Homo sapiens: one gene and its partners. The protein of the gene in region 1 interacts with the protein of each later gene in a biochemical or structural test. Each region holds a gene or a part of one and is shown on either strand. Other genes may lie near its edges. The genes, in order: SPP1, ITGB1, ITGB5 and ITGAV.

Region 1 (7,966 bases):
AGGGGTTCCTTGCTTTAAGAAGATGAAAAAACAGCCGGGCGCAGTGGCTCACGCCTGTAATCCCAGCACTTTGGGAGGCCAAGGAGGGTGGATCACGAGGTCAGGAGATGGAGACCATCCTGGCTAACACGGTGAAACCCCGTCTCTACTAAAAATACAAAAAATTATCCGGGCGTGGTGGCGGGCGCCTGTAGTCCCAGCTACTCAGGAGAATGGGGTGAACCTGGGAGGCGGAGCTTGCAGTGAGCCGAGATCACACCACTGCACTCCAGCCTGGGCGACGGAGCGAGACTCCGTCTCAAAAAAAAAAAAAAAAAAAAAAAAAGAAGGCGGAAAAACAGTGAGACCAGATGAGTTCAGAGTTTTTCTCTTCACTTTTTCATATCTATCTATCTATTCTCATGACACATGTAATACAGGCTCAGAGAGAATGGATGTATAAGTTACATTTATAATTTTTAAAAACTAATATGAAGAAAATAAAGGTAAGCAAAATGAATAGACTAAAAACCACCCAGTAATCCTAACACTCACAGATAACCAGTGTGTATTTTCAGGCATATATCCTTAGAGACTTCCCCAATTTTTTACTAGCTTTAAGTTTCTGGGATTCTAGAAGGCTGAGCCTTGAGCTCTTCACGTATTTCTTAAATTGTTATAGCTCCACGTGCCTTCTAAAATGCATCTTTGCCATATTTTCGTTTATTAAAAAGACGCTAATTCTTGCCTCAAATAGTATGACCTCTATCTTCTCTGGAGATGTTAATTTTTCTGGTTTATTATTAGGATTCAACACCTGTATTTTCAAATCAGTTGAAAAACAGACACACACACCCCTCCACACACAAACGAACACAGAATACTTCTTTTAATGTCTTCATTAAGCAGTCTAATTGCAGTGACCCCCAAGGCAGCTCTATTTTGGCCTTTATTCTGTTCAACTGGAATTGAACTCTGTGTGCCTTTTTGTCCAAGCTTCTGGGGACAATGCCCATTTGTTGTTTGGCTGGCACAGTTTCATCTGTTGTGGAGGGGTAGGTACATCTTTAGTGCTGGTCAAATAATTATAATAAAGAGTTTGGTTGGTCTTATGTTTGGTTAGAAAATGTGATCTAACATCAGCTGACAATCACAATAGATACAAACAGCACACATAGACTTTCTTTTCACAATGGGCTTCTCAGCTAATATCTCAGACAATATTGTGAATATTATGGTCATACAAACAGTTCTGACTAATATCCAATGTGAATTTTAAACTTAGCAATCCACTAAACAAAGCAAAAGCTGGAATTTTCTGCTTTTAGATCAGTATGTGGACTAATGGAAAAAAAGTCACACAACTTCATATAACTTATCTTACATGCGATAACTCATCATACATGCCTAGATATTATTATATTTAAAATATCTGGGTTGGTTTTATAAACTTATATTTATTAAAAACTATACTGTGCTTGGTACTGGCCTAGATTCATAGCAGGCAGTCAATCAATACTTGTAAACCAATGGATTTGACTGAGAAGATAAGTAATATCGCAGCAAATACGTTTCTTGCACCTCTCGCCATAATTGAGTAAATGATTTAACTATATAAAAACATAAAAGATGCTTACCTGCTTTTCCTCAGAACTTCCAGAATCAGCCTGTTTAACCTTAGAAACAGAAAAGATGAAGAAAGATTACAAGAATGTCCTCCTAGCACATGGAAGCACACAATTCAGTTATTTTCAGGAATTTTCTTTAAGATGCAACTGTACTCACTGGTATGGCACAGGTGATGCCTAGGAGGCAAAAGCAAATCACTGCAATTCTCATGGTAGTGAGTTTTCCTGCAAAATATTTCATAAGGAATAGCTGACATCTTCATAGGTTACAACAGTGATACCTTTTTATACTACCACATTACAAAATGATCACAAATAAAATATATTTTCTATAGAATCTTTTCTACTTCTTAGAGATGCCTTTTCTTTTTAGTATTATAGTCTTTCAAGTTAATATTTATATTGCCACCTATTATCCATCTTTCACTATTAGGCAAGGGAAAGGGAAATTTTGCAAGTCTGTATTTATTCAACTTTAAAATTTAGAGTTCCAGAAATTATACCATTACTACCTTATATATCTAGCTCTCTAAACCTACAAACAGATCAACAGTAACTTAATTATATTAATAAGCTAGTATGGGAATATTTTTTAGAGAAGAAAAAACTCACAGAAAAAAATGAAAAAAATTTGCTTTATCCATTTTTCCAACATGTACTTTAAATGTGACTTTTAGCTTAATTATCAAGTAGGTGCTACTTAGGTGAAATCAAACTATCTCTGAAATTTGTTATTTAAGTAAGATGTTCTAAAAATTTGAAATTCAAAGGAAAACATTGAAAATAGCCAACAGCTTTTCTATTTGTAATAATAAGCCTACACAGTGTCATACAGGTATCTTGGTGAATATTTTAACAGCTAAATTTAGCAGTGGCATATTCAGAAAGGGTTTTCTTCCCCTTAAAAGTGAGATACATCATTTAAAAAATAGCATTGTAATTGGTTTAATTAGCATAAAAGATCCCTTTTCTTTTAAATTCCTGCACAGTCACCCACTGAAAATTATATAGGTATAATTATTCCAAAGGGGAATTTAATTTTACTATTTTCTGATTAGCATCGGTGGTTTCCGTTCTTTTGAGGACCCAGTGGAAGTATTTTTAAGTTTTAAATTTGATTGGCATTCAAAATATCTAGACACCTTTGTTCCAGGAGACCTGCAATGTATCTAATCTGCTTATTAAAAAGGCTAGAAAATTTAAGTCTGTTTAACAGCATTACAATTAAAAATATTTTTCCTTAGAATTTGGACTTCCCCATGAAATTCAGCTGAATGCACAACCCAGTAGCAAACTGAAGCTGTACCTTGGTCGGCGTTTGGCTGAGAAGGCTGCAACTGGCCTGAGACGAGTCTGGTCCCGACGATGCTGTGCTCTGCCTCCTCCTGCTGCTGCTGACAACCAAGCCCTCCCAGAATTTAAATGCTGCTGCAGACATCCTCCACCAACACAGGGAGGCGGAGAGATTGTGTCATGAGGTTTTCTGCCACTGCCCAGCCCACCTGCTCCCACACTTCCCCCTCTGGTTTTGTGGTTAAAACAAAAAAAAACAAAAACGCACACACACAATCTACAGTTAAAACATTACTTATGTACAATATCATTAACTAGCTTTTTCATTTACGGGATGGGCATTCAGCATCCAGGAAGAGCACTTAGGGATCCCATGAAAAAGGGAGAAAGTAGGGAAAAACATTAATGTAAAATTAAATAGAATGGATTTTTGTTTCTTTCGGTTTAAGTAACATAAAGGTAATATCTGCAACCACTCTTGCCTGTATGATTGTACTTATTGAAGAGCCAGAAGGCTATTGTTCAAGCCTGCAAGGAGTTCAGAAAACTTGCCTCTGTCCTTTACTACTCAAGCTTAGCTTTGTGATTTCGAGTATGCAGTAGCTTGTTACTTAGACAAATGGCACTAGTGACATTAAAATATAAAATTCTATATGAAATAGAAGAATGGTAATTTATTCTAGATGTTGCAGAAGTAAAGCAGTTTCTGACTGAGAGCAGGATGACTGCTTGAGAGGGCTGCTTCAGGAGCCAGACCGTGGTTCTGAATTCCGCTGTGTCACTGCTGACCTGTGCAACCTTGGGCAAATCGCCCAGCCTACCTATCCTTGTTCCCTCATCCATGAAATGCAATACTATTACCTAGGTCATGGGGTTTTTGAGGGGTTTAAATGAATTAGTATGTTAAACTAGCAATGCTTAGCACATATTAGATGCAAATGCTCTGCGTATCTTAAGGACTATATGTGTGTTAACTATTATGAAATTTTTAAGAGGGGCAGGCAGTCACGAATTGTAATGTCCTTTAAAAGAACAGGTTATTAAAATGAGAGTAGACGTAAGATCTTTAAATTGTATGCATCAATAAGGAAATTTTGCACATTTCTAAAGGAACAGATTCGATTTTGGAATCATCTTTTTTTCTAGTTTTTCTCCCAAGGTATGTAAAGTAGGCCACTTAAAAAGAAAAACATTTTTAAAAATTTCTGTATTAAAAAACACTTTACTAGGTATTTAAAAGGTGTCTGAATGAAAGAAAATTACAGGGAAAGTCCGAATATTAGAGCAGAATTCAGGGATAGCAGAGCTCTGGGTCCTTTTAAAATATTTAATATTGCCTTGAGATTACTTATCTTCATTTGCTTTCTCAGTTGTGAAATGCAGATTGCACTATTTATTTACCTTACACCTTTATTGTTAAGACTTGTGTGTAATTGAGATGAAAAATAAATGGTCCTATTTATTATTAGGTTGCTGCAAAAGTAATTGTGGTTTTTATTAGTCCTAAAGTGTCAGCTTCCTTTTGCCAAATATTACTTTTAATATAAATATAGATTAAATAATGTCTTGCAGTGATAGTGTATAGCTAATTCATAGGTTTCATGAACATTTGGTAGGGGGAAATATGTCTCCCTTAAATTGGATGTATTCCAGATGAATTGATATGATTGGTTTGTAGGTAATAAGCACCCATTTTAATAAGTAAGATGACGACTATCTCTATAAAATAGAAAGCACACAGATTATAAAGTTGCAAAATAGACTTCTTTTTTCTGCTTCTAAAAACTATTTTTTTCCTTTAAACATACCCGCATAAGCGTGTCATGTTGTCAATTTAGTGGAGGGAAGTCTGAAAATTCTAAAAACAACAAAATTTCCACAGGATTTACTGTAGTTTACTCTGTGCCCACGGGAATGATTCAATATGAAGCTAGAATTAATTATAGGAATAGATTATGCTGGAGCCCAGCCATCTTGAGATGAACCATACGACCCTTTACAGGACTCTTCTGGTCATAGCTCCGCAGTGCCACACGATGGCAGCATTTCTGAAAAAAGATTTCAGACCACAATCTGGTTCTACCAATTTTCTTAATTCCAGCGGGATAGAACACTCCTGTATTTAATGACAGGACTATATACAGCTGTGGAGCTCTCCATTTCTTGGAATGCCAGGTGAGGAAATATTTCCCAACAATGACCCGCTATGCAATCAGGGACAGAGACCCAGAGAACCAAAGCGTTCTTGTTTTGCTCTGTTGTTGCCTTAGGCAATCCCAAGTTGACACTATTGTCTCCTTCCCGACTTCTACACTCATTCAAAAAGTTCCTAGTCCCAAGGCCTCTCTCAGAGAAAAGGCTTGTGAATTCACGGGTAAAGAATGTGTCTGGGATGCTTTGGAGTTGAGAAGATAAAGTGATTTATAATGGGAGGCAATTCTGTAAAGTAGGAAATGGATGCTGCGTCATTCTGACTATCGGGGAGGTCATGTTTTGGGATGTTTCTTGCTGTTTGCACTCAAACATGCTGCTGCTGGTTGTTTTTTCTGAGTAGGATTTTCTGTCAGAATTAACATGTTAAATGATTTAAATCACAGTGGCTCTATCTGTAATATTTCCAAAGTTTCCATTCTTGATTGGCTAATGATTGGTTGTTAGAATCAAAAGGTCAAAATGCACAAATTCCCTATAAATCTTGTGAGTGGAAAGTAAAAAAAGTTTAGTTGTCAAACTAGAATGCAAAGAGTAATTTGTGATCTTAAATTATACACACTAAGAGGACACATGGAAACAAATAAAGAGCCTTAAGGTCTTTTTCCTGAATTACATGAAAATTCCCATATAATAAAAAGTAAGTGTTCAATGTCACTACTTTGGTGGACAACTTTATTAAACTCACTTCCAGTTTATTTGAACATTTCTAATTATATTTTACTTAGTAAAGTGTAACCAACTATTTCAGTGTTTTCAGCTCCACAGGTAATTATTTTTTTCCCTTGAGTCAAGGTTCAGACATGACTCTGATATTTTGGTAACACCACTAATCTGTCATAAAGAAGTTTGGAATTAAAGCTAATCGGAAGCCTAGCACCATTCATCATATATAGACTGGGAAAAGGGGCATTATTTATCACAGGGTAGCAAGCAAAGGTGGATGATAAGAGGGTGCTATTTTCAAGTTCAGACATGAAATTAGAGCATTTCAGAAATACAAAAAAAAAAAAACAAAAACACCATAAACTCTTTTATTCCATTGCTCAATAGCTTAGACAACAAAAGTCAGCTCCTGACAAAGTGGTCGTACCATTGGTAAACATTAGTTTCAATTTAAAACAAATAAAAAAAAGTTTTCCTTTAGACACATAGAACTGTTATGGAGTAAGTGCTCAATAAATTGTTGGTGATTGCCCACTCAGCCCTGCATCTATGACACGAATTCTGACCTTATAGTTTTTGCTTATGAATACAATGCATAGGCACTATGCTTGAATTCAGAGTATATCTCATATATTGATATCTAATATCTGCCTGTACTCAAGAATCTAGCATTTATTTCTTCATTAAAGTAGTATTAGTAACTCTGAGGACATTCTAATGCTCTTTAAATGATAGACTTTTTTAAGGTAGACTTAAATTACTAACTTTTTTTTCTTAAATGACACCATTCTTACCCTCATGGAGCCCATTTGTTCATGAAAATCAACTAGGAAATTTGAAACTTGAGTAACCAATGAGATTAAGGGGGTGTGGCTAAACAGTAAACTTGGCAGCACCCTGGGTAGAGAAGGTATATGGTAGAGACCCTGTGTCCACATTGGAGTTGAAGGGATGGGTATTCTGGGATTGGATCCAAACAGAAAGTCCCCCTTCCCACTCAACATCAACCACAGCAGCATAAACTCGAGACCTATAACAACCTGGGGAACAATAGAGGAGGCTGTAATCAGAGAGGATCCAAAGAGGGAGATAGAACAAGGTGGAAAAGCACAAATAGAAAGTCTAGCAGCTGCAGGAGGACCTTGTTTGTTCAGAAAAAGACATTTTGTGGCAATAAGCGGTCAGTGACAGTCATTTTGCAGATATATTTGAGGGGAGAAAATCATTCTCCGAAATTGGTTTATGAGAATTCTTGCTTAAAATCTGATGTTTGAGTAATTTTTGGTAGAGAATCTATCATAAGGTTGATATGAAAAGGTGACAATTTCAGTGCAAAAGAGAAAACAAAATCAAAAGAAAGGGGAGTAAAACTAGACAACAAAAGCAGCTCAGTCAGATATTTTTCTGGTTACACTTGGCTAAGGTTTTTTGTTTCGACAATTCTTGTCAAGGCATAGTTTACATTAATGCCCCTATCCCATAGCATAACATTTATGTTTCTTAAACCTGTAATTTAAAATATTCTATATTAAAATTTGATTTCTTCTTTAATGTTTGAATTCCTCATAGAGTGTAAGTTCCATGATATGCTAATCCCTCTGCAGATTATGTGCCAAAAATATTTATTCAGTGAAGAAATTTAGCTCAATTATGACATGTATATAGTTCTTACATAAATTGAGTTATTCTTGCTGATTATTTTCTGTTGCCTTCATAAAGCCCCAGATTAAACATATTTATTTATTTTTGAGACAGTGTCTCACTCTGTCACCCAGGCTGAAGTGCAGTGGCACGATCTCGGCTCACTGCAACCTCTGCCTCCTGGGTTCAAGCGATTCTTGTGCCTCAGCCTTCCAAGTAGCTGGGATTACAGGCATGCACCACCATGCCCAGCTAATTTTTTTTTTTTTTTTTTTTTAGTAGAGATGAAATTTTATCATGTTGGCCAGGGTGGTCTCAAACTCCTGGCCTTGAGTGATTGGCCCACCTCAGCCTCCCAAAGTGCTGGGATTACAGGCATCAACCACCGCTCCCGGCCTCCTGAATTAAACGTCTTCAGATTCCAATATAGATAGTGTTCCGCTTGAGTGAATTACACCTGAGAACTTCAGGCATGCTTCCTGTGCCTAAAAAGGACTGCCCAGGTGATTGCTATTTCTTACATAACATGAGGTCCTCTGGGGTCTGGC
Region 2 (7,026 bases), on another chromosome or scaffold:
TTAATGTGCTTTCTAACAATCAGATTCCTGACAAATGTGTTCATAAAGTAATAAAAGCAGCAAAACCTTAAATATTTTATACTGACAAAATATTTAAGGTAGTAAATGTTAGACAAAATACAAATGCTCTGAACACTAATATCATAAAAACATAGTAGACAAAATACAAATGCTCTGAACACTGATATCACAGAAACCCTTAAAAAAAGATTGAGGGGAGGGAATAACATACCTAATACAAACAGAAATAAGGAGGAAGCTTTGAGGTTTGCTATGCTTTGAACGTGTCCCCAAGGTTCACGTGTTGGAAACTTAATCCCCAAAGCAACAGTGATGAGAGGTGGGACTTTTAAGAGGTGATAAGGTCATGAGGGCTCTGCCCACATGAATGGATTAATGCTATTACCACAGGAGTGGAGAATGGGTTCCAGATAAAAGACGGAGTTTGGCCTCCTTCTCTTCTCTCACTCTCTTGCCCTTCCACCTTCTACCATGGGATGATGCAACAGAAAGACATTAGATGCCAACCCCTTGATAATGGACTTCCCAGCCCCCAGAACCCTGACATAAATTACCCAGTCTGTGGCATTCTGTTATAGCAGCACAAAGACTAAGACAAGGTTCTTACATCACAAGGAAGCAAACCCCCCTGAAAGGACTAGAATACCAATTCTGTGTTTTATTAATCAAACCCAACTAGCAATATGATTTCGTTCAGGGACTGCTGCTCACTGTGGATTACTGAAAAAAAAAAAAAGACTGACTTCTCAATTGAGAGGGCCAGACTAGGCACAGGCAAGAAGAAGAGTATAATACACTAAGTTTTGATGATTTAAAGTAATTTGTAACAAAAAGTTATTTCATTTAGAACTTTAAAAAATTAGAATTTTATTTCAGCACCTTCAAATGGATATGATAATAATAATGATAAAATAATAGCATCTATCTCCTCCAGGTAACTCAATGAGGTGAAGAATAATAGTGTCTTTGTTTTACAGATGAGGAAACAAAACCAGAGAGACTAAACAACTTGCAATGGTGGAATCAAAAGTTGCACAGGTGGAATTGAAACCTGACCATCTGTATCCAGAAGCTATGACCTGACTTCATTAAACTGTAATTTTTTCAAAGCCTACTTAATCACTATTTTAAAACAAAGAACATCCTTCTAGTGTTAGAACTGACTCAGGGCACAGAAATGGAAAGGGCTTATAATGTTCTATGAGTTTATTTCTTGGGCATTTGAACTTAATAGAGGCCAAGAAAAGTTATTTTAATTGCCATATTTCATAAGTACAGACAAAGGTTTTGTGTCTTGTTCCTATAAAAGCATTTCACCTTAAGGTCATTTTTTACCATATGAAATTTTATCTAAGGGGTCATAATTCATTCCCTGAACAATAAACAATCTTAAACACCACCCACAAATAATCTCATTTTAGTGGTTAACCCAAATATGTGCAATTGTTTCCACTGTCAAAAATAGTGCATAATTGTTTTAATCTTCACTGTAAACTAATCTTTATCCATAAAAGTATGGTTTTATATCATGTTCAAACTTTTAAATACACACTCATTATTTATTAATTTTTTTAAACAATTTTACAAATAATTCATTTGGCATTTCCTTTTAAATTTACAATCTTTAGAAACTTTATATGGACTATCTTTGTAGAAATTAAACAACTACACTTTAGAAAAAAATTGTAACATATGTAACATATGTAACATGTTATGTTCATTTCAGAGTTGAAAAATAAGCCACCTAAAAGCCAACTCAAATAAAAAGAATACACAAAAGATTTCACAAAATCTCAAATCTTTTCACCTTAATAGTAGAAAAGATTCTGATACCTATAGAGGTATATCATAAATGTCTCCTAAAAATTATAATAAACTTGGATTCATCCCAAGTCTGTTCTACCATCATTATTTTCTGTATCTGCTTTTAAAAGGGGAAGAAATAGGCCAATAACAGATTTTAGTATTTAAAAATCAATATATTCCAGAAGAAGAACACAGAGCCAAATTGAAAGACATGAGGTTCCTCCCACTTATCCCACATAGAGAGTAATAAAAACGAGAAAAACATGAATGGAAGAAACTGAGAAATCTTTCTGAATTCTGTACCATCTGAGAGGGTGACATGTGGAGATGAGTTCCTCCCATGGAAAGGGAACCTTTCCCCTTACAGGAAGAACAATTAAAACTCAACACTTTTTTTCCTTCCATCTGGCAGGAAGAGGTGTGTTGGTCACTACAGAGGTGTTTATGGCCCAAATATTAATAAGCTAGCATTAATGATTAACAAAACTTCGCAGAAAGAATAGAGAAGAAAAAAAAGGAGACATGAAAGAGAAGAGGCTAAGGGATCCCAAAGATGTAACACCACATTTGAAGTCCTCTTCTCCTCTCCTTGACAAACAGAAAAGTAGTCTGAATTAGAAAACCATCTAAAATTCACCACTCCCACCCAGAAGAAAAATGGCTTTTTAAAGAGCACTAACCCCTTCTCACACAATGATAATGATAGCCTGGGCTAAGAAGCTCTAACAACAAAGGTTTGGCTGCTCCAAAGCTATAGGTTCACAAAACAATTTGAAATCTGAGAACAGCTCACAACACGGCGAGATACTTTAAGAAAATTATACAACAGATTGAAGATAAAATTCATCACTAGTGACTCTACCCGCCTTCTCCAGGAAAATGAAATATGGAAGATTTTTATCACCACCCAATCTACAAGTGCAAGGGAAAGATAAATAATGGATATAGTACGCATTGGCAAACAAAATGCCTAAAGATAATACGTTGGGGGTAGGGGGAGGTAAAGCCTGGAAACTTAACACCTAGGAAAGACTTCCACAGAACAAAAAGTGAAAGGAAGTCAGTGAAGAATCTTCTTTAAAAATAAGAGAAAATCTAGATCTCATTCTGCTCTTCAAGAAAGTCAGAAAATCTCAAATAGATCTTGACAGTGATCAAAGAGCAAAACCACAAAAGTCGAGGAAAAGTAAACAGAACTAAGGAAGAAAATTTAGGCTGGAATCCTCTACAGAACTCATAGACACCAAGAACAGAATCAACATAACAGGAAAATCACACAAAATTCAAATAATTCAAGCCAATGAGAAACGTTGTCTAATGGTGATCTCATAAACAGACAACTGGTACAGCACCACCACCACCACCAGCCCCTCCCTGTCCTGAAAAAAAAATAGCTTTATGTGAGAAACGGGAAAAAAATGAAGCATTTAATTCAAATGGGGGTAAAGGGGCACAAAATTAACTCAAGACTTCAGAGGATGAACGTAAAAGCAGAAAAATACACTATAAACAAAGCTATTAAGCCATAATATGAAGGGCTGATCCAAAATGAGCAAAAAACCTGCCCGAACTTAATTCTTCCCAGCTCCTCCTTCCACTCAAAAGGTAAGACATTATTACCTAGCAATTGATTGTTTTTCAAACCAGCCTAGTATGCTGTTCCTTCTTTCCACTCTCTATGCCTGCGGACTTTTTTGCCTTTCCCTGTGAGGAGGAAAGAAGTTGGGAACGGTTTTGGTTGAGAAAGTTTACTTTGGGGCAAGTTGTCAAAGATAATTGTGAGTGGAGCCAGCAAAAGAACCAGCATGATCAACGGTATCAATAAGCACCTGAGAGCAAGACTTATTCCCCGTAATTTCAATTAAGGAGAATTATCTTCTCAAACTGCGTAATTATATCCACTTTTTAAGCAGATCATTCCAAAATGCTTCCTTGATTAAAACTAATTTTGACCACATCTTTTGTCACATCTTCCTCTCCATCCTGTCTGTGGTGGAGTGCATACAGTATTTTAAATACATGATAAATGTTTTAAAACCATGATAAACATAGGAAAAAAAGTTTCTCATTTTACACATCAGTAAGCTGTAAACAGTATCTAATTGTTGGAAAGATAAAATATGATCATTATATGAAAGCTCTTATCAGCAAATATATTTCTAGGTGGTCAGCAGCTCATAATTTACATGATTACCAAATTTGCTTCTTGTTCTCCAACTCATTAATCATGGCCTTCTAAAACAAGAACCTCAGTGACTCTTTAATAAATGTTTCTCAATCTTTTTAATCCATGCTTCTTTAATAAGCATAAATCTTACTCCCTATTGTACTTTTTTGTAACATTTTTCTAACATAACATTATACTACCAAATGTGCTTTTTCAAACTCCAATTTCCTCCTCCAATAAACATGACCCTGTACCACCCCTTTAAAAGAAGCACTGAAATCATAATATGAAGAAAATCATACATAAACCATAAAATATTGTACATGGAGAAGAATAATCTATTGCTAATTTCATAGATTACGAAAGCTTAAGTTATTTACATATTCATTCAATAAACATTTATACAGAAAAATGTGACTTCCATACTCCAAATGGTACATACCTAATTTCGTATGTAAATATTTTCCTCATCACTCCACTGAAACTATACTCCCTACACAAAATAGAATGCTGATTTTTCTTCTTCCTTTCTGTCTTTATTGCCTCTTCATCTCCTCACCAACCACAATCAACTTAATTAACTACTCCTTCTCTGTGGTTCCAAAACAGCTTTGATAGTGCCCAGCAGAGTGAATGACAAATCTTCAGTGATGCTTAATAATATAGTGTTATTTCTATTCAAACTTCTATTGTAACTAATTGTATTCATGTCTGTGTCTCTCATCAGGCTAGTATTGGAGGGCAAGAACCCAGGCCTTCATTTTATATAGCCTTCACATATCCTTCTGATATATATGATATTATACATAACTCCTAATAGGTAACAAAGTGGCCAGGTACTATCTGTGAAATTAGATTGGATTCTTCCCATGCTGTCCTTGAATGTGACAACCATCTGTCATCCAACCTTCGCTCATACCATTCCAAGCTCAGGCCTCATCTCCTACACAACGTGTTCCAAAACCACACAAGCCAATGCTGAGATTTTTCTAACATTGTTAGGGAATATTACATGGTACAGTATTTTATGGTACAGTACATTGTATAAAACACTCTTTGGTATTTATGTTTTCCTGAACTGAACACAACTTGTTCCAATTAGACAACAGACTCAACATCAAAGAGCATGCCAACTTCTTGATTCATGTCCACTGAGTAAAGCATTTTTCAGGTAACTGGTACTCAATGTACTGATAGAATAAAATGTAATGTACAGCCAAGCTACATCCTGATGCAGAGCTGACAGGGACAGATGTTGCTGGTCAGCGCTGGCAGGTATCCTTAACAGAGTAAGTGGCACAGTGCCTACACTCTCTGGTGATACAAAAAAAAAAAAAGTTGCTCATGGAGAGAGAACTGCACTCTACTTACATCAGGCAGCAGCTATCCTCCAACTCCTCGAACGAGAGAATGAGAGAAACATGCAGGCTGCTTTATAGGGTAGATGTGGAAACCAACGCTCTGGAAGTACAGTACTCTGACAAAGGTCACACAGAAATTCAGTGGCAGACCCGGCACTGACACCCAGGTTTCCTGTCTCCCAATCGAGAAGCCTTTAGTACATCAAACTGCTTCTCTGATCAGGTATCTGAAAATAAATTACCACAAAGAAATGTGACCAATGAAGTCTTTCTGTCTTTAACTCAAACATGCCAATCACTGGAAAAACCCAGAAATACCTATGTCACTCACAAAAATGCCACTCAAAGGAATTAGAAGTTCAGAGAAGAAACTGGGGAAGGTAAATGCTTTTCTAGATTCCTCTTCCTCCACCCCCCCTTGACTATTAAAAGTGTTCCCAGGTCCTCCTTCAGCCCGTTTTTCACTCCACACCCTCCTTTGGTGTTTGCATGCACAGCCTATAGCTTCAACCAGCAATAGACTAAGAATTGTCAAATTGAAATCTCTCAGAGTTTTTTCTTTTTTTAAGCTCTCAATCTGTGTATTCAACTGCAATTTAGACATCTCCACCTATGTCCCATGGTCACCTTAAAAAAAAAAACTTGGCCTCATAAGGTCATCATTTCCCCTCTGCTCCAGCCAACCAGCACCCCCAGCTTGTGGTCACCCTCTCACCTCAGTGAACAGCACCTCCTAGCCAGAAACCAGTGTCACACTGGGTTTCTTTTATTTCTCTTATCAAGTCTTATCAGTTCTCCCTCCCAAATACAGTAGTTCTTGAACCCCACTCAAATCATCCTCCATATAGGGATCTGCAAAGCTTTCTGACCACTCACCTTTATCAGCAAAAAAATTCTAGGCATACCTGTACCCAAAATAAATGCAATTTATAAATTCAGATACATGTACTTCTACAGCAATATAGTAAGATTATCAATCATAATCAAAATTTTAAATTTTAAAGTGATGAGATCAACAAACATAATAGTAGACCTAAAATTTTCTCCCTATACTTCAGTGAGTCTTTTTATGCATCCCTGGAGATAGGAACCTGTGCTTTGAAATTATGTACAATGAGATTGGTCCTATAAGAAATACATACATATATGTGCTTGTGTGTATGTGTGTATATACATATGTATGTGTACTGGAGGCAGCTTTTCTCATGCACACACACGTTTCATGAGGTGATATGCACACGCTTAAGCATATTGCTAAATATAGTTAACTCTACCTTCTAAAGTCACAAACCAAACGGCAAGTTTAAAGTTAGCTGACCTCTAAAAACTCACAGCCACTTTTAAAACAATAACAAATGTACAAAGTATAGTTTGGATCCTTTTGTACACAGCTCCTGAAAGAGAGAAACTTTTTTTTTCACCTACCGACAGACATATTGGAAGGCTGCTAATATTCTGACTTTTACGGACTGTACCCCCTTTAAGCTGGGTACATACCATAATATCTTTTCAGTTTTCCACAGCTATAGATACCTCTAGCATAACACTTCAGGATTCAGAAGACGAATGTACCTTTCTGTATCTTAACGTCTCTACTCCATACCTCCCACCTCTGAAAAAATAACCAGCCAAACTCTCAGAACCTAAAACCAAGTCAGAGTAAACACTGCT
Region 3 (7,026 bases), on another chromosome or scaffold:
ATGTCAGTCCCATTTTTTGGTCAAATCCCCGTACCTGTCAGCAATCACTATCTGCAGGGGAAAAAAAATAAATCTAGAATGAAAGTAACTTTGCTCCTCCTCTCCTCAACCTTATCAAATACAAACTCAGGCTCGTTGTGGCATATCCTTTTCTTTGATATATAAAATCATTTTCATAAAATCATGAGATTATAGCACCTTGGGGCTAGGATTGTTTTAAGATGAGCTAGTCAAGTTGCCTCTTTTTATAGATGAAAATGTAAGATAATGAGAGTATGTGACTTGAAACAAGGAGCCCTATCTACAAAAAAGAGGTCAGACGGGGTCCTGACCAGCAAGTGCCCACATGGGATACCTGCCTGGTGGTCCCTCTGCCATCTTGGATGTAGGGCTGGTGTGACCTGCTGAGCTCTAGGGTCCTCTGGAGATCTGTAACAGCCCCTTTATCAGAAAGGAATTTGAGGTCAAAGGCCTCACGTAGGACTCTGATCAAAGCCACATAATTTTTTTTTTTAGACAGAGTCTTGCTTTGTTGCCCAAGCTGGACTGCAGGGGCATGATCTTGGCTCACTGCAACCTTGCTTCCCAAGTTCAAGTGATTCTCCTGCCTCAGCCTCCTGAATAGCTGAGATTACAGGCATATGCCATCACGCCTGGCTAATTTTTGTATTTTTAATAGAGATAGGGTTTCAGCATGTTGGACAGGCTGGTCTTCTGACTTCGACTCCTGACTTCAAGTGATCTGCCCACTTCAGCCTCCCAAAGTGCTGGGATTATAGACGTGAGCCACCGTATCCAGCTTCAAAGCCACATACATTTGCAAACAACACTTTATAATTACCAGAGCCTCATCATGAGCTCTGGGAACTTGGGCTGGAGGTCCAGGGCTCAGGACAATAAGAGCTCCTCAATTCTGATGCAGATCAGACTGAGCTCTGGTCTTCTGGTCCACCAGCCTAAAAGCCCTTACTTAATTGGACACAATACCAAAGAAACTCAAAGGATGTGATAGTCACCTGGTATGAAAACATCATGAACAACTGTAAAACAATTTGTCATATAGCATTACTAACTGTTTCTGTTATTATTAAATATTCACATGGAAAAGTAAAGTCGTTTGTACTCAAAATGATTGCCCTAAAATTCAGTTGCTGTTGGGACACATTCAAATTCAAGAAACTCTGCACTTAACACACCCTAAACGCTGAGCACTGGACTGGGGGGATGCTAGAAATGCACAGGTGAATGACCTACCAGCCCTTGATGTCCAGGAACTCACAGTGTGCCGGGTACCAGGTACCAGACAGGTACTCCAGGATCCAAAACCACAGGCTGTGTGCTGGTATGTGTAATGTCAGACTCACTCCCTTTGGCATCTCTCCTCTCTCCACCTATTAATATTTCAGAGTTTGGACTTTGCTGGATGAGTCATTTGGCACCAATAAGCATTTTGAAAAGGAAGGAAGCAATGAATAAAAAACTAAACACACGGAGTTCACAAATGTCAGTGTTAGGTCTAGGTCATGGAAACAGGAACTAGCAGCCCAGATGATAGCCACATCTCATCTTCTTTGCTGTTTGCATAGTGACTATTCCCAGCTCGGTGGCAACTCCATGTATCTCTTTTGCCTCACGTCTCTGAAGCCCAGTGTTTACTGCAAACTGTAATCTAAAAATATGTTCTTCCAAAATTCACTGACTCACCCCTGTGTTTCATCAATCATTCAAGGAGCCACCGCATCCGGTTGATCACTCCTTTCAAGATGCAAGAAATGTTTATCCTAAGCCAACCCTTCCTGTCTGCAACCTCTAGCCCCAACAACCCAAGCCAGGCCCTCTGGTCTAAATTCCTGCCATAGCCTCCTGGCTGGCCTCCTTCCATTCAGCCTCTCTCCACTTCTGTACACCCCATGGGTCCAAGGTCAGACAACTACTACTAAAACATACATCTGCAGTTGGAATTTCCTGATCCAAAATATTCAGTAGGATAACAGAAGTGAATACAGAAGCTGAAATGGCCTTTCTGCCTTGAAGATGGCAATGCCCTGGAATGCTTCTCCCCACACCCTGAACCAGGCCCTCACATTTGTCACACAATGGACAAAAGAGTCCCAGTATAGACTCCAGCAACTAAATAGCCATATGTCTAAATGTTACCATGAAATGCAAATATGCCCTAGGAAGGTTCTATCCCAGCAGTTCTCATTCAAGACTGCCTTTATGAACATCAGACATCTGCACAACACTCAACAATACCAGCCTTACAGATCTGACTTCTATTTTTAAAACACCAATTCATATAATGGAGTGCTAGACAGCTATAAAGAAAGAATGAGCATGCTCTCTGTATTGACAGGAAGCTTACCCCAATACATCGCTAAGTTAAAAATAAAAAGCAAGATACATACTGTGTTTTGTGCTGCCTCTGAATAAAAATGAAAGAGGGATATTCGTAACATATCCATAGAAACCCTCAGGATACATAAGAAAGCTTATTAGCTTTATAATAGGAACTATATAGGCACAATTTATTTAGAAAAGGGGGTCACAGAAATATCCCACACTGATGGGCAACAAGAAAGAGAGGCTTCTCGCTTGATATGAGTTATACTTTTAAAAATTATGGGACTATATTACCTATCAAAAGGTATTTTTTTAAAGAGGCAATTGATTACCTCTATGTTCTTCTTCCAAAATCACCTAACTCTGTCTAATCACGGGAAAAAATCAGAAAATCCCAAGAGGGGGATGATCTACAAAATATCTGACCAGTGCTTCTTAAAACTGTCAAGGTCATAAAAAACAAGGAAAAGACTGAGAAACTGTCACAGCCATGGGAACCCAAGGTGACATGACAACTCAATGTATTGTGGTATCTTGGATGGGATCCTAGAACAGAAAAAGGACTTAGGTAAACACTAAAGAAATCTAAACTGATGGACTTTAGTTAATAATAACATATCAATATGGTTCATTAATTATAATAAAGGTACCATACTAATGTAAGATGTTAATAATAGGCAAAACTGGGTGTGAGGTAGATGGGAACTCTTTGCACTATCTTCTCAATTTTTCTGGAAATCTAAAACTGCTCTAAATTCTTTGAAGGCTTTTTTAAGGGCCAGGCACACTGGCTCACTTCTGTGATCCCAACAATTTGCAAGGACCAGGTGGGAGGAGCAGTTGAGCCCAGGAGTTCAAGCTACAGTGGGCCATGATCACGCTAATGCACTCCAACTTGGGTGACAGAGCGAGATTCTGTCTTTTTTTAAAAAATAAATAAATAAATAAAAGAGACACCGGGCACAGTGGCTCATGCCTGTAATCCCAACACTCTGGGAGGCTGAGGCAGGCAGATCACCTGAGGTCAGGAGTTCAAGACCAACCTGGCCTACATCGTGAAACCCTATCTTTACTAAAAATACAAAAAATTAGCCAGGCATGGTGGCACGTGCCTGTGATCCCAGCTACTTGGAAGGCTGAGGCATGAGAATGGCTTGAACCTAGGAGGCAGAGGTTGCAGTGAGTCAAGATCACACCACTGTACTCCAGCCTGGGCAACAGAGTGAGACTCCATCTCAAAATAAAATAAAAAAGAAAGGGAAAAAGAAAAGAAAAAGTACATATGTAAAAGTTTGTTTGTTTGTTTGTTTGTTTGAGACAGAGTCTCTGTCTCCCAGGCTAGAGTACGGTGGTGTGATCTCAGCTCACTGCAACCTCGGCCTCCAAAGTTCAAGCGATCCTCCTGCCTCAGCCTCCTGAGTAGCTGGGATTACAGGTGCACACCACCATGCCTGGCTAATTTTTGTATTTTTAGTAGAGACTGGATTTTGCCATGTTGGCCAGGGTGGTCTCGAACTCCTGACCTCAGGTAATCTGCCTGCCTCGGCCTCCCAAAGTGCTGGGATGATAGGTGTGAGCCACCCTGCCTGGCCAAATCTTTTAAATAAAGTTTTTCTAAGCCCATTAAAATCCTGGGGTGAGAGAAGGGATCATCTGAGTACCAAGCATTGTGGCTGTGTCAGGGACACAGGTAAATAAGACCAGGGCTATTAACCAGGTAGCAGGTGAGACAGACCAGCTGCAGCCCCCAGTCTCTCTAATGGAATGGGCCATGAAAGCAGGAGGAGGAGGAGATAGTTCTGCTCCACCCAGGGATGTAGGGAAGGAGAACAGGATATACTGGGTATAAAAGATCAGAGGACTTGTTCTGTCACTTATTGGTTATGTGACCTAGGGCAAGTCACTTAACCTTTCCAGGCCTCAGCTTCCTCATGCAAACAACTCAGGGAGTAGACCAAATGGCCTCCATACCAGCTCAAAAAATCCTAACACAAAGCCAGGAGTGGTGGCTCATGCCTGTAATCCCAGCACTTTGGGAGGCCAAGGTGGGCAGATCACCTGAGGTCAGGAGTTCAAGACCAGCCTGGCCAACATGGTGAAACCCCATCTCTACTAAAAATTAAAAAATAAGCCAGGTGCGGTGGTGTACGCCTGTAATCCCAGCTACTCGGGAGGCTGAGGCAGGAGAATCGCTTGAACCTGGGAGGCAGAGGTTGCGGTGACCAGAGATTGCACCACTGCACTCCAGCCTGGGCAACAGAGTGAGACTCCAATTAAAAAAAAAATCCTGACACATTCCAACAGAATCTCTTTCTCCCAGGATGTTTCTTCCTAACAAGCCGCATGCATAGTCCCTGACTTCAAAGCTAGCTGTGGAAGGCAACAGGGAGTTGAGGACGGGATGCATCGCCCTCTTCACCTCCCAATTACCAAGATTCAGGTTCATCCATTATTCATTCAACAAATATGTGCCTGGTGCTGTTGTAGGCATGGAGGATACAGAGATGAATAAAACCAACAAGACTCCCTTATTCACGGAGCTCACATCCTGGCTGGGGGAGAATTCTACTTAGGGGAAATAGTGAAGAAGATATGTAGTTACATTAGATGGTGGTGAGTGCTAAGGACAAAAATTAAAGAAGAAAAGCAGATAAAAAGAACTCGGGATATAGGGAGGAGGTTGCAGCTTTAGCTGGGAGCGGCCAGGGAAAACTTGGCTGAGCAGGAGATGCTAGAAAAAGGGTTGCAGGGTGGAGGAAGCCGGTCATGCAGATATCTTGGAGGACAGTATTCCAGGCAGGGAGAAGGGCTGCCATGGGAGCATGGCTGGCACGCTGAAGGGACAGTGGGAGGCCCATGCTGCTGGAGCAAAGGATCGAAGGGAAAGTGGTGAAGGAAAGTCAGAGAAGTAGGTGGAGAGTTCGTGGAGCCTGGCAGGACTCTGGGAAACCATTCGAAGGTTTTAAGCAGAGAGATATGATCTGACTTGAGTTGGATCTCAGGATCACTCTGAGGGACAGTTGAGAATAACTAAAGAGAACAAGTTGCAGAAGTAGGTCCCAGCTCTACAAGAGACAACCAGCTCTGAAAATGTCTGGCTGGAGTTGGGGAGGGAATCCTATAAAGAGAGGGCAGGGTACCCCGCAGTGCCTTCAAAGCATCAGCCTTAGGGGATGAGTCAAGCCTGTCTTAGAGCAAACTTTTCACCATGAGGCCCGGGAAGTAAACCCTGCATTCAACGGAAGCAAGAAGCCTCAGAAACAAATGGGTGCCTCTAAATAAAGCATTCCTTTACATTTATAGAGGCCATTAATCCCATTCGAACCGGAAAGAAGGAAAACAAACCACGGCAGTCAGTTCTCCAAGGCCCTCGGCTCCAGCCAACTGGAAATACCTGTGAAAAGAGACCCTATCCCATTAACCCAGCTGCACACTGCCATGTGAAAGGGGCCCTATTATTTAAGTAGTTTGTAATTGTCCCACATTACTGATATCGTTAAAGCATCTCAGAATATTTCCATGGCCAGGCTGAATAAGAAAAAGTAGTTACCAGGCCACGCAGGCACAAAAGGCCTTTTGCCAAACTACTTAGATATTTTAATTCCCCGTTGCCTCAGTAGCTAAATAAGCATGGAGAACAAGCAGGCGGGGAATACTAATTAGAGCTAATTAGACCCTGCCCTCTTCTGCCTCAATCCCCTTTATAAAAAGCTCCCCCAACTCAAGGATGATGGAGTTAAAATGTAAATCCATAGGATAAACAGCAGTCTACAGACCAAACCCACTGTTTGTATTTCATTGTCCTGTCAGCTCTAAACCTGTGCCTGGTTACCTACAGAGAGCTGCAGACCCAGCCAAATTCCAACAACCCCATCACAGACCACAGGAAATGTGGTAGGGGGTTGGGGGTAGAGGAAGGGTGCTGCCAACATGAGTCCACTAAATAAAACAAAGGGCTTTCTTAGGATGTGCAGAGCATTCACTAGAAGAACATTCGATTGCTTTTTTAAAAAGAAATGAATGTGATAGCACACATAATTCCAGCGGTGTTGCAGGATCCTCTTTATAAGACGGTGTTCCTCTCTCTGTCTTAGCAAAGGCAGCGTGGAAAAGCCTCACCTCAGTGAGACCCCTGGTTTTGTGGGAAGACCACATCCTAGGATTCTGTCTGAAGGCTCTTGGCCATAAGATAATAAAAAGAGCAGGAGATAGCCCTTGGTGGGGACGGGAGGGGGTTGTCAGCCGGCCAGGGACTTGTTTGAAATGAGCCCCTGAAACCTAAGGTCAGTTTCCTGCTGGAAATCCGTACTGAGATGAAAGTGGGGTTAGAGCAACAGAGAGAGGCACTCAACCACTGGTCCAGGAACACCCAGGCAGGCATGGCCCTGAGGGTCATCTCTTTCTTTTCTCTGAGTAACTAGGTTTTTTTCTTTCAAATAATGTTCCTAGTGGCAAGACAGAAACACTCCCTGAATAAAGTACCTGTAGTGCTTCAAGAAAACAAAGAAGGGAAGGGAAGCAAAAAAAAAAAAGAAAAAAAAAAAGAATGTTGAAGTTAATTCAGCAACACTGAAAAACTAGGAGAAATGACACAGATGTGAGTCAACCTCTGCTAATCCTGAGAAGCTTCAGGGCCCTAAGAGGTAAGCAGCAAGTTCTGGAGGCCAGTGCCATGGCTTGCTC
Region 4 (7,019 bases), on another chromosome or scaffold:
AGTCTCCAGAGAAATTGAGAGTAGAAGAAGCAGATTTCTGAAGTTCCCATGGGTTATTAACTGAATCTCCTTTGAGGTTCTTTGAGAGAGATAAAATTTGAAATTCCTCTTAAATTATGGACTAAGTTCCTTTGTTTGCAGAGACAGAGCTGCGTGAAGCCCTGGTTTGATTATGGTTATTGAAGGACCTGTTGGACAGACACTAGGGGAACTAAGAGAGTGAAATAATAGTCATAAAAATTTACGGCAGGAGAATTGCTTGAACCCAGGACGCGGAGGTTGCAGTGAGCTGACATGGCGCCACTGCACTCCAGCCTGGTGACAGAGTGACACTTTGTTTCAAAAAAAAAAATTTATTATTGCTACCATGCTAAACTATTAGTCTTAAAAGTATTAATGGCAACAAGAACTGTTCAATTCTAAGAGATAGACATAGTATTACTCCCCTTTCCCTTTCATAGATAAGAAAACTGAGGCACAGATTGGTTGGATTGATTTCCCCAGGGTCATACAACTAGTAGTTGGCAAAGCCAGGAATGGAACCCAGGTGCTTTATTTTACAGAAACCACTGGAATCAAGATTTTTACTAAAGTATAGGGTAGTAGAGGATAAAATTCAAAGTACAAATTCTTTTTACTATCTAATATTTTATTTTCTAAGAAAAGGATTATATTCAATGAATACTTAATGTATACACAGAAGTTCTCCTTTTAAGTTGGAAAACTGTTATAATGTAGTTCAAAGAGTAGTGTCATGGGGGTAGGGGAGGGGCACCACCATTCTTTCGTAGACTAAAACATTCTTTTCTCTGTCCCATGCACATAGTACCAGGTGCAATGTGGATTTTGAATCAGCACTAGCTGAATTGACATGTTCTACAATACAATTTGCAAGGCACTGTGTGAGTGGCTGCTCGAGCATGGTCACACAAAGAGATGCCTGCATTTATAACCCCAAGTTTCTAAAGCCACTGGGTTAGTCTGCTTCATAGTTTCCTAATTGAAATGTATGTTTGCTTTTTTTTGTTGTTAGACAGTCTCGCTCTGTCACCCAGGCTGGAGCACAGTGGCCCACAATACCACAATATCTCGGCTCACTGTAGCCTCTGCCTTCCGGGTTCAAGCAATTCTCCTGCCTCAGTCTCCTGAGTAGCTGAGATTACAGGCACACACCACCATGCCTGGCTACTGTTTTTTCTTTTTTGAGATGGAGTCTCATTCTGTCATCCAGGCTGAAGTGCAGTGGCACGATCTTGGCTCACTGAAACCTCTGCTTCCCAGGTTCAAGTGATTCTCCTGCCTCAGCCTCCCAAGTAGCTGGGATTACAGGTGCCTGCCACTGCACCCAGCTAATTTTTGTATTTTTAGTAGAGATAGGCTTTCACCATCTTGGCCAGGCTGGTCTTGAACTCCTGACATCGTGATCCACCCACTTTGGACTCCCAAAGTGCTGGGATTACAGGTGTGAGTGAGCCACTGCGCCCGGCCAATTTTTGTATTTTTAGTAGAGACGGGGTTTCACTGTGTTGGCCAGGCTGGTCTTGAACTCCTGACCTCAGGTGATCCACCCACCTCGGCCTCCCAAAATGCTGGGATTACAGGCATGAGCCACAGTGCCTGGACTATTTGCTTTTTTAAAAAAAACAAATTCCTTGATTTTCAAGACTGCTCATTCAAAATAAACTCATAAAGAATGGCTCAACAGTAAGTGCTTTCAGTAAGTTGTAGCCCTATTTGGGGGTGTGTTGTTCACCCAAGTTTTGGTGGGTGTACATGTGTTGTCATTTCGTGGGCTTCTTCTTTTCCCTGGTCCTCTCACATTTCTTCACTCCACCTTGGTCTGTCGGACCCCTGTCCTGCGATCAGAAGTTGAGGAGTGGGAGACTTACTGGATCTAGCCAGAGTTTAAACTCTTCTGTCTTCCTTACCTGGATGGATTTCCAGGTAGACTGGTTGTCATGTTTTTAAGATATAAAAGACCCTTTGGGTTTATGCATACATATCAATAGCCTCTTTGGTGTATTAGGAAAGAAGGTGAGAAATAAGCTGTATTTGCATTTATGTGTAAGGATTTGTGTAGGATTTCTTCTCTCAATCAGTAATTTCTTTCAGGCAGATGCTAGACCATGCCTTGTAAAACATGCCAAAGGTTTTGCTGCATATCTTTTAGTCAAATTTAAAAATGGAAATATTTAATGCATTTTTTTTTTGAGATGGAGTCTCACTCTGTGGCCCAGGCTGGAGTGCAGTGGCACCATCTCAGCTTACTGCAGCCTCCGCCTTCCGGGTTCAAGCAATTCTCCTGCCTCAGCCTCCTGAGTAGCTGGGACTGCAGGCGCATGCCGCCACGCCCGGCTAATTTTTTGTATTTTAGTAGAGACGGGATTTCACTGTGTTGCCCAGGCTGGTCTCGAACTCCCGAGCTCAGGCAATTTGCCGGCCTCAGCCTCCCAAAGTGCTAGGACTACAGGCATGAGCCACCTCGCCCGGCCTTTTTTTTTTTTAAACACAGGGTCTTGTTCTGTCACTCAGGCTGGAGTGCAGTGGCAGGCTCATGACTTATCATAACCTGGAACTCCTGAGCCTAAGCGATCTATCTACCTGCCTTAGCCTCCGGCATAGCTGGGACTACAGGCATGCACCACACTCCCAGCTAATTTTTAAATTTTTGTAGAGATGAGGTCTCCCTATGTTCCCCTGGAACTCCCGGTCTCAAGCAATCCTCCTGCCTCAGTCTCCCAAAGTGCTGAGATTGCCAGCATGAGCACCTGGACCTGGTCCAATAAATATTACAAATTCGAATTAGGCATTTCACTTTCATTTATATACATATCCTTTCACAGGATTATTTGATAGTTATTAATGTATATTATGATTGAGTTTTAATAGTTACTTTGGGAAAACAGAAATTACTGTTCCAGTACTTACTTGTAAGTTGTAAGTCCACACAATGCACTTAAACTTCACCTTGTTCAACAGATTCTGTAGCACATGAAACACTTGAAATATGGAAGAGTCACTTCTCTGGGCACTTTGCTCATTTCGTCTGCTATTCATTCACTGATTGGACATTTTATTGATCGACTACTATCTGCTTGGCAAGGTGCTAGAAATAAGAACACTAAGAAAAAGGTCAAGGTTCCTGTCCTCAAGGCCCTCTCTCTCAGTCCAGTGTTGTCAAGGCTTGATGAAACACACCAGTGGCAAACAAGCACGCGGGGCCTTATTTCACCGGTGTGCGGTCCTTCTTCCAGCTCTGAAATTATGTCTATCCAAACATCCTAAATCAACAAATCAGTGTTTCTAAATCATACAACCGCAGCTAACAAACTGGGAATAAGGCTTCGATTATTCTGACTTGATTTAAAACGATCACTGCCAATTCTTTGCCCTGCGAATCCTTTCTTTGACTACTAAGTTAAGCTTTACATACCTCACTTGCAAGAGGCTATGCTGGCTTTCTGGAAATCCGTAATTAAGTTCAGTGTTTGTGGAATGGAGTGTAATTAACGACCATTAATTAACAGGGTTTCGTTCGTGAGAGCCTGCCAGGCTAAGCAGCAGAAACACGAGAAACTGATAAAAAGCTTTCCTCATTTTTAAACAACAGTCGCACGGAAGTTCCCGGCGGGACAAGGGAACGTGGGTGCCCTTGCTACTCCCGTGGACGCGGGTAGATTGGGACGCTGGACCGTATCTCCCCGCCCCCGCCCCCACGCCTCCTCAGGTGCTCAGCCTGAGGCCTTCGTCCAGGAGCGCTGCCGCTGACCCAGGCTCAGGAGCTGGGGGCCCCTGCACAGACGCCCAGGTCTCGGGACAGGCGGCGACTGCACTCACGGAAGTACGCTGAGCTCTCCCCTGTAGAAGGGCGCCTCTCCTCCCCCACTTCCTCCTCCAGCTCCACAGCAGCCTCCCGGGCCGGCTCCTCCTCCTTCCAGGTCTCCTCCCAGTGCCGCCGCGGCTCTCAGGCCTGAGGTGCGGCGCTCACCCCGGCAGTCCCCAGCCTCAGACGCTGCGTGGAGCGGCGGAGCCGGAGGGAAGCAAAGGACCGTCTGCGCTGCTGTCCCCGCCCCGCGCGCTCTGCGCCCCTCGTCCCTGGCGGTCGCTCCGAAGCTCAGCCCTCTTGCCTGCCCCGGAGCTGTCCCGGGCTAGCCGAGAAGAGAGCGGCCGGCAAGTTTGGGCGCGCGCAGGCGGCGGGCCGCGGGCACTGGGCGCCTCGCTGGGGCGGGGGGAGGTGGCTACCGCTCCCGGCTTGGCGTCCCGCGCGCACTTCGGCGATGGCTTTTCCGCCGCGGCGACGGCTGCGCCTCGGTCCCCGCGGCCTCCCGCTTCTTCTCTCGGGACTCCTGCTACCTCTGTGCCGCGCCTTCAACCTAGACGTGGACAGTCCTGCCGAGTACTCTGGCCCCGAGGGAAGTTACTTCGGCTTCGCCGTGGATTTCTTCGTGCCCAGCGCGTCTTCGTAAGTGGCCGCACTTGGAACTGGAGCCGGCCCCCTCCCCCACCGCGCGCACCCACCCAGCGTTTCTCCATTGGGATTGATTTCCGAGAGATCCCGGCGTCTGTCTGTCTCACCCATCCTACCTCTCAGAGTGGTTTATATCCTGGGTGGAGGAAATATTTGGGGAAATGAACTCCCTTTGGTACCCATCACCCAGTTACACCCCGCTTCTCACCTCTTAAAATTGGTTAGGGGCAGCGGGAGAGCTTTGAAGCAGACCTGTGCTTAAAAATCGGGGAAAGTGGGAAATCAACAAAGGCTGGTCTTGCCGGACTCCCCGCCTCCTGTGCCAGTGTCGAGGATTTGGTCAATATCATCCCCGAACTTCTTTTTCTCCTCTACCAGTTAGGCTTCTTGGTAGCCTTTTTCTGCTTTACAGGCTTAACGCCCGTCCTTTTCAGTCTCCCTAAACAAGCCCTCCCCCACTCTTTCCGCCTCTGTCTGATTCTGTTTCTCCTTACTCCTTTTGCAGACATTCTGATGACTTAAAATGACCATACTGTCCTATTGAATTCATTGTGTCTTATCTCTGGGACTGTCAGACATTTGCACATTTGAGGTTGAACAGATGAATTGAATGTGTCATCTGTTCTTTTTATAGTGATTCACTATTTAGGTCATTGTTCAGAAGGAACAAGGGTGTTTGCTGAGTTTTCACTCGCTGCAGGTCATTTGAATACTGCAGTATTTAATAATTCAGTTATGTTTTCAAGTTGCCAACGTTCCGCGTTGCAAGGGCCGTCAGGATTTATAACAGTTATTGCCATTATTGTGTTAGAAATTGTCTCCGACTTTACTGAATGCTGACATCATTCTCACCACCCCACCCCCATGTTAGCGTTAGGAGTACTGTTTTAATGAATGTTGACTGTTTTTTTAATGATGTTTAAATCTTGTTTTCAAGAGAGAAACTGTTCTTAGGGTGCCTTCTAAACGCTTAGACCTTGTAACAACATATTTTTGTTTCCATATTTTCTGTATAAGATATCCCTTCGGGGTGAAGTGGAGGAAAATTTTGACGGTTAGTACGTGGATAGGACCATCTTCTACTACACACATGCCTAATTTGAGGGTGGTCTCAATGGTTTTCTATGACTGTTAGGACACTCAGCAGAATTTAGTCTTAGTGTTTTTCTGAATGTTACTGAGTATCATTCATTTTGGTAACAACCTTTGCAGCAATACATAGATTAGATGCAGTTAATGGAAACTTTGTTAGTGGAGACATTATTTTATGTAGCAAGCTTAGTTTTATTTGTTGTTAGCAGTTACAGTGCTTTCTGTGAGACCTGGAGCACAGATTTTCCAACATGATAAAAATAATCATTATTTAGGCAACATTTACCAATTTCACATTCCATTTAGTCATTTTAGTCAGCATTATCTTTTTATTTATTGTTTTTAACCACAGGGGTGAATACCAAACGTTATCTTTAAACATTTTTGTTTCCAGATACTTTCAAGTGTATACCTTCATGAGACAGAACATTTTAGTTGCTCCCAAGGGTTCAATGTGAGATATAATTTGTAGAGAAATTCTAATGATTTTGAAAATATATGTCTTCAGTCAAAAATTAGCATTTAAATACTTCAGGCCAGGCACAGTGGCTCACACCTGTAATCCCAGCACCTTGGGAGGCCAAGATGGGCAGATTGTCTGAGCTCAGGAATTTGAGACCAACCTGGGCAACATGGTGAAACCCTGTCACTACAAAAAAATACAAAAATTAACCGGGCATGGTGGTGCACACCTGTAATCCTCGCTCTGCGGGAGGCTGAGATGAGAGGATTGCTTGGAAAGTTGAGGTTGCAGTGAATGGAGATTGTGCCACCACACTGTGGCCTGGGCGATAGAGAGAGACTGTCTCAGAAACAAAAACAAAATCAAAAACAACAAACAATAACAACAACAAAATAAAGTTGATGGCAGTGTTTTACAATGTTACTGTTAATTCTTCAGCAGTGCTCTGAGTTTAGTGTAAGATAAATGAGAGGCTGATAAACTTTAAGTGTTTTTTTTTTTTCCATGAAAAATGCAGTGATGTTGAACTCTTCATGATATTTGCTACTGCTGATTACAAACCAGGGTGACTAATCTTTGGCCAGTCATTATAATCAATGAATGTGTTATGACCTCACAGGTTTACATGACTTCACTCATAGACCTTTAATGATAAAGTAAAATTGAACTTGGGTTTGGTTGCATATAATATTTTGAAATATTCATCAGCAACTTTGTTACCGATAGACTACAGAGCTCTAGGTATAGGTAACTTAAAAAATGGAAACCAACCTTGAATTTTTTTCTTTTTTCTTTTTAAACAAAACGTATATAAACACAGGTTTTTACTTACTGAGCTTTTCAGATTTAACAAAAATTTATGTAAAATTTTGCTGAATTTTCTAGAAGGGCACTTTAAATTTAACAAGCATTGGAATCCAAGGTACTTGGGATGCCATTTCCAATATTACCAGTTGGATTTATTGTTATTTGGTATTACCATAAACTTTTAAAAGA

Evidence for each region.
Region 2: the proteins of SPP1 (region 1) and ITGB1 form a complex in vitro, tested with the Homo sapiens proteins (one study listed by BioGRID).
Region 3: the proteins of SPP1 (region 1) and ITGB5 form a complex in vitro, tested with the Homo sapiens proteins (one study listed by BioGRID).
Region 4: the proteins of SPP1 (region 1) and ITGAV form a complex in vitro, tested with the Homo sapiens proteins (one study listed by BioGRID).

Annotation. Positions count from the first base shown.
Region 1 is NC_000004.12:87,970,748-87,978,713, reverse strand, and holds the start of SPP1 (osteopontin isoform OPN-a precursor), read right to left. Parts: upstream 3,001-7,966; 5' UTR 2,914-3,000; intron 1,833-2,913; 5' UTR 1,819-1,832; coding exon 1,765-1,818; intron 1,656-1,764; coding exon 1,617-1,655; intron 1,053-1,616; exon of another isoform or gene 996-1,052; coding exon of another isoform or gene 864-995; intron 1-863. UniProt on the Homo sapiens protein: Major non-collagenous bone protein that binds tightly to hydroxyapatite. Appears to form an integral part of the mineralized matrix. Probably important to cell-matrix interaction.
Region 2 is NC_000010.11:32,948,228-32,955,253, forward strand, and holds part of ITGB1 (integrin beta-1 isoform 1A precursor), read right to left. Parts: intron 1-7,026.
Region 3 is NC_000003.12:124,877,349-124,884,374, forward strand, and holds part of ITGB5 (integrin beta-5 isoform a precursor), read right to left. Parts: intron 4,513-7,026; exon of another isoform or gene 4,495-4,512; intron 1,342-4,494; exon of another isoform or gene 1,255-1,341; intron 1-1,254.
Region 4 is NC_000002.12:186,586,062-186,593,080, forward strand, and holds the start of ITGAV (integrin alpha-V isoform 1 preproprotein), read left to right. Parts: upstream 1-3,994; 5' UTR 3,995-4,277; coding exon 4,278-4,462; intron 4,463-7,019.